Linked DNA regions of Homo sapiens. The protein of the gene in region 2 interacts with the protein of the main gene of each other region in a pairwise test. Each region holds a gene or a part of one and is shown on either strand. Other genes may lie near its edges.

What was found.
Region 1: the proteins of SEMA5B (region 2) and ANXA7 interact in a two-hybrid assay, tested with the Homo sapiens proteins (one large-scale study listed by BioGRID and IntAct).
Region 3: the proteins of SEMA5B (region 2) and NUDT21 interact in a two-hybrid assay, tested with the Homo sapiens proteins (one large-scale study listed by BioGRID and IntAct).

The regions. Positions count from the first base shown.
Region 1 is NC_000010.11:73,386,559-73,390,058, reverse strand, and holds part of ANXA7 (annexin A7), read left to right. Parts: intron 1-1,644; coding exon 1,645-1,747; intron 1,748-2,275; coding exon 2,276-2,370; intron 2,371-3,500. UniProt on the Homo sapiens protein: Calcium/phospholipid-binding protein which promotes membrane fusion and is involved in exocytosis.
Region 2 is NC_000003.12:123,020,929-123,025,028, forward strand, and holds part of SEMA5B (semaphorin-5B), read right to left. Parts: intron 1-4,100. UniProt on the Homo sapiens protein: May act as a positive axonal guidance cue.
Region 3 is NC_000016.10:56,428,633-56,431,482, forward strand, and holds the end of NUDT21 (cleavage and polyadenylation specificity factor subunit 5), read right to left. Parts: 3' UTR 501-2,850; downstream 1-500. UniProt on the Homo sapiens protein: Component of the cleavage factor Im (CFIm) complex that functions as an activator of the pre-mRNA 3'-end cleavage and polyadenylation processing required for the maturation of pre-mRNA into functional mRNAs.

The DNA.
Region 1 (3,500 bases), on a different chromosome or scaffold from region 2:
TTTATTTTAGGTCAACATTCAAACATACAAGAAATGTGTTGTTACAATTAAAATTTTTTTAAAAAGTAGTGGAGCATCATCTTCATCCCATCCCTCTTAAGCCCTGACTTGAACACCCTAAGAAACTTCTTGAATTATTCTGGGCTGGCCGCACACCTGTAATTCCAGCACTTTGGGAGGCCAAGGCAGGGGGATCACTTGAGGCCAAGAATTCGATACCAGCCTGGGCAACATAGCAAGACCCCCGTCTCTACAAAAGTAAGAAATTAGCTGGGCATGGTGGCACATGGCTGTAGTGCTAGCTACTCAGGAGGCTGAGGCAGGAGGATTGCTTGGGCTCAGGAATTCAAGGTTACTGTGAGCTATGTTTGTGCCACTGCACTCCAGCCTGAACAACAGAGTGAGAGCCTATCTCTAAAAAATAAAAAATTGGGGGAAACTATTGAATTATTTCATAGCTTTGTATTTTAAATTGTTTTATCTTTTAATTTTGACATAATTTTAGACTTGCAAAATAGTACAAATAATTTGTATATACCCTTTACTCAGATTCTCCAAATGTTAACTTCCTACATAAACACAATGCAATGATCAAAATCAGGAAATAACATCGATATAGTACTGTTACCCAACCTACAGACCTTATTTCAGTTTCACCAGTTGTCTCAATGATGTCCTTTTTCTGGTTCAGGATCAAATCCAGAATGCAATGTTGTATTTATTGTCATGTCTCTTAAGTCTCCTTTAATCTGAAATAGTTCCTCAGTCTTTGTTGTTCATGCCCTTGATGCTTTTGAAGAACACTGTCAGTTATTTTATAAAATATTTCTTAATTTGGGTTTGTCTGATATTTTCTCATGGTTAAATCCAGGTCATGCCTTTTTGGCAAGAGTACCACAGAAATGATTTTGTGCCCCCAGTGCATCATATCAGGAGACACTTATTATTGACTTATTCCATTACTGGTGATAATTAATTTTGATCATTTAAGTTGGTGCCTGCAAGGTTTCTCTGCTATAATGTTATAGGTTATACAAATATCCTGTTTCTTTATACTTTTGCCACCTAATTTTAGCACCCACTGTTGATTCTTGCCTGAAACAGTTACTACCATAGTATTTGCTAAATGGCAATTTTTAATTTTCATATAGATTTATTTCATGTATAATAATCAGGGTCCATATAGGAAATTAAGAGAGATTACTAAAATTATATTGCTGGTTTGAAATCTCACTGGGCATTCATGTGCTACTTCACTAAAGCCATTTTATATTCTTCTGTTTTTAAATCAAACATTGTCGCTCATCTCACACCATTCAGGGATCAGTCTTCTTTTTTCTTCCTATTCTACCAAAAAGGAAACTATAGTAAGATTGTGACTTTAATTTCACAAGTTTGGCCATCTTGTCTCCTGGAAGTTTGGTGTCTGGCTATCTGTTGGCAGGAGAAAAATCTGTCCTGAAGGGGGATAGGTCTTTCCTGTCTGTTCCATAATGAGCTCTGGTAATAAAATGCTCATATCCTTGCCTTAAAACCCAAACATTGGCCTTCTTACTTAAGATTGATGTCTGGGGAAGTCTTTAAGTTTCCTCATTAGAAACTTACTGGAAATGCTGACACGGATTTTATGCCTTTTATTTTCAGCCTGCCACAGTGACTCAGGTCACTCAAGGAACTATCCGACCAGCTGCCAACTTCGATGCTATAAGAGATGCAGAAATTCTTCGTAAGGCAATGAAGGGTTTTGGTAAGGAAAACAAATTTTTGTCTTTTTTAATAAGTTAAAGTAATCAGTTCTAAAGTAAAAATAAACCTTATCTCATAAACCCAAGTTTATGTGTCAGCCTGGGTGCGCATACCTGGATTTAATCTGATGTCTAGTGCCTTGTAAGCATTCTAAGAGATGACCTCAGGCTGGGTGTGGTGGCTTACACCTGTAGTCCCAGCACTTTAGGAGGCCGAGGTGGGCAGATCACCTGAGTTCAAGACCAGCCTGGCCAACATGGCGAAACTCCATCTGTACTAAAAATAAAAAGTAAAATAGTTGGGCATGGTGATGCATGCCTGTAATCCCAGCTTCACGGGAAGCTGAGGCAGGAGAATTGCTTGAACCTGGGAGGTGGAGATTGCAGTCAGCCTAGATCACACCATTGCACTTGCACCCCCAGTCTGGGTGACAAACTCCGTCTCAAAAAAAAAAAAAAAAAAAAAAGATGACCTCAAGCAGCACCTAGCATGTACTTTGTCCTTACTTAAACATGTGTGGTTCTTCCAGGGACAGATGAGCAGGCAATTGTGGATGTGGTGGCCAACCGTTCCAATGATCAGAGGCAAAAAATTAAAGCAGCATTTAAGACCTCCTATGGCAAGGTATGTTTTTCTTTCCTGGAATGAGCACCAGCAGTGGCTGGTAGACTCTGCATTCATGTCAGATTGGATACTATATTTTGATTAGTACCTGTGGTGCAAAAGAGGGACAACTAGACTTTAGAGACCTCAAGGGTACTGTATTCCCTATTTCTGTTTTTTGTTTTGTTTTGTTTTGAGATGAAGTCTCGCACCAACATCCAGGCTGGAGTGCAATGGTGCGATCTCAGCTCACTGCCGTCTTTGCTTCCCGAGTTCAAGCAATTCTCCTGCCTCAGCCTCCTGAGTAGCTGGGACTACAGGTGCACAGCATCATGCCTGGCTAATTTTTGTATTTTTAGTAGAGACAGAGTTTCACCATGTTGGCCAGGCTGGTCTCTAACTCCTGACCTCAAGTGATCCGCCTGCCTCAGCCTCCCAAAGTGCTGGGATTACAGGCGTGAGCCACCATGCCTGGCCTATTTCTCTTAAAAGGCTTTTTCATTCTAGAGTAGTCCTTGATCTCATAATCATACCTTACCCCAGTCACATATGTGATAGACATTCAGTAGAAAGTAGATCACAACTACAATCATGATCAAGAGGATGGTTCTCAGTCTTCTGCCTGTTACAGTGGGATTCAAGGCTTATTACATAGCCCTTGTTTATTCTTGGTCCTGGGCATCGCCTTCTGCTTCTCTCCCTTTCTCTAAACGTGTCCTATGTTAAAATTATATGGACTGAGCGTGGTGGCTTACGCCTGTAATCCCAGCACTTTGGGAGGCCAAAGCAGGAGAATTTCTTGAGGCCAGGAGTTCAGGACCAGCCTGGGCAACATAGGGAGACTTCATTTCCAACAACGATGACAACAAATTATATTAGCTGGGCGTGGTGGCGTGTGTCCATAGTCCCAGCTGCTTGGGAGGCTGAGGTAGAAAGATTGCTTGAGCCCAGGAAGTCAGGCTGTTAGTGAGCTGTGATTGTGTTACTGCACTGTAGCCTAGGTGACAGAACAAGACGCTGTCTCAAAAAAAAATAATATGGAAATGCTTGCCATTCTCTGTACACGCCATGATCTTTTATGCTTCTGTGTTGTGTACATGCCATTCTCCTGGCCTTGAATACCTTTTCTTTTTTTCATGGCAAACTTCTTT
Region 2 (4,100 bases):
CACTCTGGAACCTGGAGAGCTGTTGAAAGGGAGCATGTGCCCCAAGGCACCTGGTCTATGTAGAAACATTACCCTCAGCCTTGGGGACATTCATGTAAGTGCTCTTTAGACCTTGCCTGTTTGGAGCTTTTACCACAAGGACACTGCTCTACACTTAGACTCCTGATGGGACCTAGGGTATCCCTGATGCCAAACACTGAAAGTCCAGGCTCTACCAAAGGAGGAAGGAAAGAAAGCCCGGATCCCGGGAAATCTGCAGGGGTCTGACCCTGCATCAGCCAGAGCTAGTGGTATTTTCCTCTTCTGTCCTGCTTTCGGGCAGAAATACACACCAACCAACAGGGCAATGTGTAAACCTTAAAAGCAGTCTGCTTTGAGTGGATGAGGCCTCTCAGAGAGGGCTCCTAGCTTCCCCCAGGCGCCTTGAGGGAAGAGAAGCAGAGGGAGCTGGCTGCTAGAAACAAAAGTTTGTATGAAATGATAAGATCTGCCCCAGCTACTCACTACAGATATAGAGTTACTCAAGGCACCGAAAGCAGGGAAAGAAGAGGCCTGAGTTGGGTGCTTCACACACTTGTCCCTGAATAATTAAGAGCCAACTGCAGCTCTTTTGTATTCCTAACAGGGGGGCTCTTGGGAGGCCTTCCGGACAATGGCTAGGGCAGTAGGGAGGGAGCTATGGCTCAGGTAGACCAGTGGGACTGGCAAATAGGGATGGATCTAAATTGTTACCCTGCAAGCCATTTCCCTAAAGTTGCCTCCCAGGGCGGGCTTACATCAGCTCTGGCAGGGAACGAAACTGCGGACAGAACTGCGGTTAATCCAATGGTCAGCCGGTAACACACAGATTTGGAATACCTTTCATCTACATTTATATGTGCATATATGTATGTATGTTTATATGCACATGTATGCCTCAATATACAGCAGAGTTACCTTCCAGATGATATTTGGCTCAGGCTGAGGCAAAAAGGAAAATGCATTCTCTGAAGATGCAGTGACTGGCAGTCGGTCAGATGGGTTAACAACAGGGGGGTTGGATGGTAACTGGAAACTATCCTGAGACTCACATTCCCCACAAAGAATCCACAGAAAAGTCAACGAGCCACTCCTGGAAAATCAAGAAGCGACTGCAATATCCATTCAAAACCACTGACTTGAGGGCCAGAAAGGGCTTTAAGATTCTTCTGAACACCTCCCTTTCACAGATGAAGAACCCAGTGGTTTGGCAGAGGTGCTCAAGCAGAAAAGCCTCCCTCATTTCTAACCCAGCCTCCCCACTCTGTAACTGAAACCTGTAATTTGATCCTCAGGGGACTGGCAGGACAGATGGTCACTAAACATCCTTCAAGTACCAACCTTTCCCATCACAGAAGATGCTGGCCAGGACATTTCTGGTTCAAATGAAAGATACTCTGATAATATCGACAAGGCTTCAAATTCAAACAAGTTCCATGCGCAAGTCTGATTAAGTCATCCTTATTAAACGCAGAACAATGAGGACAGTGTCATGGCGGGATTCAGCACATACAGCATTGCCTTTAAAGCTTTCATGTACTCAGGGAAAGCCCGATGGAATCCTTGTCCTTCTATTTCAAGTCAGAGAGTGGAGGAGAATCAGCAGACCAACTGCCAAGAAGAGAGCTCAAGGTTAAACTCTCCTGACCCAGTCCCCATCCCAGAGGTCCCTCCTTCTGCTTTCTCTCCTGTGCCCAGCAGCAAATTGGACAGAAAACCATCTTCATTTTTTATTCCACTTTGAAGCCACCAAGTCGAATAATTTCTCACTGGTGAGTCCCCCACTCAAATCAGGACTGAGAGGCCATTCTGCAAGGTTTGGGTTTCATCTCTCATGCTCACTAAAACAGAAGGGAAGGGAAGTATCATGGCAGAGCCACACAACATTCAGCACCCTTCTGTCCCTTTCCTTTCAGAACTCGACTCTCAGCTGGAACTTCTCCCTGCCATTTTCTAGCATTCAAGCTGGTTATAAAGGAAATTTCTTCAGAAGGAGAGTATTGGAGGAGATCCATCTGAAATAGAGAATGGCATACACGAAGATCCTGTTCCAGATTACCCATTAGAGGATCATCTCCTCAGCTAAGGCAGATGTCATCAAACCAAAAGTCACAGAGAGGGGGGTTTGCAAAAGTATAGCACGATGCCAGTGAAAAATCCAGGTGTTGTCCACACAAGCTATAAATGAAGGGCTCAATTCTGTCAATTCAATGAAATTCCATTAGTCCAGGCATTTGCTTTGGCCTCTTGCCATACATTTAAGACCAAGTTAGTTAAGTGTTGTCATAAATTTAAGGCCAACTTAGTGATAGGTAAACTCATATGGAAAGATCTGAATGTAAAGAAAACTCATTCATTAGAAGTAACTATTTCCAGCACACACACACACACACACACACACACACACACACGAAATGAAGACAAGCTAGTGATCAAGGTGACTGAATGAGGCAAAAGATGGTCCCCAGAACCCACTGGGGTTTAGATCTTTAAGTATAAGTAACACTCCCTCCAAGCACTTGTGCATCCCCAGAGCTCCAGATGCCCAGATCTCCAGGAGCCTGGCTTTGCATCTATTTACACCACAGGTACAAAGTAGGTGTTTAGCTTTGATGAGTGAGGAATCTGAGGCACAGAGAGGGAACTTGGAACTAGGAAACAGCTAAGGTGATGGGATCCTAGCCCTCTCACCCTCCCCCAAAACCCTGGACTCCAAGTCCTTTGGACAACTCCACATTAGCTGTCAGGTCCCCCAGACAAACCCACAGGGGAAAAAACACCACAGTAAATCACCACAGATGTTGAGGCAATGCTGATAATTGTGTACCCTTAGTCATGCTGATTTACCCCATCCTGGGAGATCAGAGGCATGTGTTGTTTACTGTTGTATCCATGGCTCCTAGAACAGTGCCTGGCACATAGTAGGTGAGTGAACACAGGAGTTTACTGCCACTGGATGGTCTCTTTTACCCTGTACCCAGGCAGTGACAAAGCCAACACTTGAAGATCATGGGAAACATCTGTCTACTGCCAGGGTATAGGTGGTGGGGCACCAGAACTCAGCTCTGGGTTCTTTAAGGCAATATAACATAACAAGGTGGCATGCACTTCTAATCAGGGATCTTGTCTTTTTGTCTTCTTTGTCCATTCTACCACCTCAGTCATCAATGAAAGTGGTGAACTGGTTGGCTGGTAATGAGTTGCTAACTCAGATCATTGGATATAAGAGGGTGACCAAGACTAAGCACGGGAGTGTTATGGTCAGTGTTCAAATAATTGGACCCAATAGCATCATCTTCCTAAATACACATACTCCATCCATAAATGTCTGCTGTTCCTCTATCCCCTTGATGGGTTCCCATCCCTCTTTTTAGATCCCCACTCAGGCATCAGGGCTTTCTGGATGTTCCTTGGAATCTGCAAACATCCAATGTGAGCTTCTAGTCTTATCTCATCTAACCCTATTGCTACATTAGATGAAACAAAAAGTTATGGTTGAATTTTCTCTTTTTTGTAAAAAATAAAATTGGTTTACACCCACTGGATTCCCAGTGGGAATGGGGACAGGAGATCTGAATCCAGTCTTTGCTCTGCATGTGGAACCTTATATCAATGGATGTGATGTGCTCAGATTTGAGTAAAACAAGATGGCTCCCTCAAGGAACTTATCATCTGACAGAAGAATCTTAATGGGCCCTGAGAATGAGGGTGAGCCAAGGGCCCAACAGGTCAGAGGTAGAACCAGGCCATGAGATATTCCAGTCAATCCCCAAGGTACAGGGAGACAAGATAACATGTATATCCAAGGCAGATGAGCTCACTTCTTAGAATCTTAATATCTTTATCTATAGATATAAGGGGTCAGGCTACTTAAAGGCTGTTAATTGATTTTGTTAGGATCATTTCACTTGGCCAGTTTGGCTTTGAACTCCCAATTGTCCATAAGCTGGGCCACTCTAATTGCCTGATCAACACACTGTGACCTGCCTGCCCTCTGTAGGCATTTGAATTTGTGCTTCCCCTGACATGGACAATCTCCAGGGCCTCTCCCAGCTTTGAGTCTCAATAAGAAGTGACCACTG
Region 3 (2,850 bases), on a different chromosome or scaffold from region 2:
ATATATTCCCGTATTTTGGGTAAACTTTCTATTTAAGATAACATTGAATTACACAGTATTACATATGCAGCAGGTATGGTGTGTGTCATAGAACATTATGAATTCCAGGCAAGTTTGAGAAAAAAAACTAAAGGAGTCAACCCTCCCTTTACAGATGAGGAAACTCGGACTCAGTCCCCAATGATATGGACTACACACAGTTAACACAACTGTGTAGCAACTTCTAACTTGTGGCCTTCATGTTCCAAATCTAGTGACCCTTTCACACCTCAGGAAACTGAAACACTGCTAACACACAATGGGAGGAGGGAGTGTGTGGGGCACAAGGAGAGGGCAACATCAGTGACCCAGGCCATCAGGCCCTTGCTATTATGCTAAGCTGTCTCTTACCTAAAGGCCCTCGGCCACTCACAGTGACGAACCATGCAAGATTTCTACTAGCACAGTAGGATCAGCAGCCACACATACAGGACTACTATCCCAAAACAATCACAGAGTCATTCTCTTTCAAATATTTTTTATTGAAATGACAATAAAATAAAAAAAGAACAGTGATCACTTTAACCAAACTTACTTTACAAATATAAAAATATAACCAAAACTTGTTTCTTTTATACATTTGCCATAAACGTAATACCAGAAAAGTTCTCAAAACCAAACTATAAATGATGCTTGAATACTATGATGTGAACACAATAACCAAAAGTTTAAATTTCTAAATACATGACCTTTCCCTCAACAGAACAGCATAATCAATATATCTTCCCAACTTATCTCTATTTTTACGATATGATCCATTACTAAGATACAAAATACACCTGAACTGGCCTAATCTAGAGTTACCTAGGTTTTAGTAAGTTTTTTTCCACAAAAACAAGCTTAATAACTATAATACAAGCTAATATTAAAATGTGTTTTATGGCTCAAATCAAATTACAGTATTAGGTTTCTCATCACGATTTGAACAAAAGCAAACTGCTTGAAATGAGTCCAGTTTAACCCAAATAATCAGTGATGTATAACAAGTGAAGTAAGTATGGGAAAATCAAATCTTATGCTACAGAAAGCTGACTTATACTACAGTCAACAACCACTAAGCCTTCTTTGGCAATGAAACATACAAAATTGCAAACTCTGATGCAGTCTCAGTGATTGGCATATACTGTTCCAAACACTATGAACTAGTAAAAACATTAAGTTTGAGGATGGAAAAGCTACCCCAAGCATTTCATCTCAAGTGACTGAACAAGTACTGTAAAAATAAAGTCATTAAAAAGCCGAGAACATAAGAGCACAACATTTAAGAAAGGGAATTTTAAGCCGATTGCTTGCTGGCCTGTTGAATTTGAAGTACTTCTACCTCTCACTTCTAATTAAACATGGAAGAAAACAGACTGGCTAATTTGGTCACACTTTGTCCAAATACAGTGTTAACTTAATGGAACCCTTAAATATCCAAAATAATAAGTGAATGCTATTTATAAGACAATAAAAAGTTTTAAAATCTTCCAAATGTGCTGTTAACAGTACAAATTCAAGTGCAGAATTATTACGCCATTTTAAGTATTATCTACTTTTTTAAAAAATCACAGTGGTCTTCATCACATGGCGAAAAAACAAACTTCACTCTTCTCCAAAGGGATAAGTCCATCCTAAATGTAACTACAAACAATTGTATAAACCTTTATAGTTTTTCCCCCTAATCTACTAAACATATTCCAGTGTCATTTAGTAGTTTTACATAGAATCTGCACTATACTTGGATACTCAGGGAAAATAAGATGACATATATTGTAGTTTTAGAACGCAAAAGAGCTTTCATTTTAGACAAATATACAACATAGAAGCCACTAAAAAATATGGGTCTATTAATCAAGAGCCCATTTCAAAATGATAAGAGCATTTAGTATGTAGATCTGGAATGCACAGTTTCTGGAAGTATTAGAACTTAGTGTTAAACAGTGCCCTTATACCCTCTTCTAATACTGTAGACACCTACCAACCAGATTTGATTTCCCCTAATTCTATTATTTCCATCAGAAAACCAAAAACAGATTATTGGGGATCCACCTGTAACTGACCAGAGCAAAAAGTTTTTAAGACTTCCGTTTGTGTGTTGCAACTTTTACATTCAAAACCAGATCTCTTACATTTCAAGGTTAGTAACCCAGCCATCCTGAATCAAAGGTTTTTCTCAACTAGGCCTTAGTGTATGGATGACTGGCTCACGTACTTACTGTATATTGGGAAGAAGTGAAGAAGTGAGAAGTGAAGAATTTCTTGGTCAAAGTTTAAGTTACAAAGAACATGAGTGGCCTCGAATCAGATGACTCTTCAACTCAAACACTCCTTACTGAGAGTACTTTATAAAACACACAACAAAAGTCTACCTCTCTCCACCCTCCACAAATTGCAAAAGTGAACATCTGAAATGTGGCCACTGTAGCTTTTCCCTCAAAAGCAATCATGGAAGGTGAGCTGAATCAATCCATCTTCATATCCACTTCCTCCAATCTAAAGGAATAGCTGAAGGACGCAGCTAATGGATGAGCTTACCAGCAAAATACATTACATGAGAAATATGCTAATGTAGGCTAGAGGGGTAGGACTGTTAGGGGCAGGAGGGAAAAGGACAATTCACAGAACTAGTGGCTTTTTCAAAGGAAACTGGGGCATTTTTGATCATGGAGACTGGTGCTCACCTACCATGAAGGACATGCACAGTTAGTCACTACTTAACCACCATGTGAGGGTTTGACATGACCCCAACTAAAAAAACTTGAGTGTTTATTAATTGCTCAGCTACACTTGGCCTGATTTCCTCAAGTATCATATACCTTTGACATCACC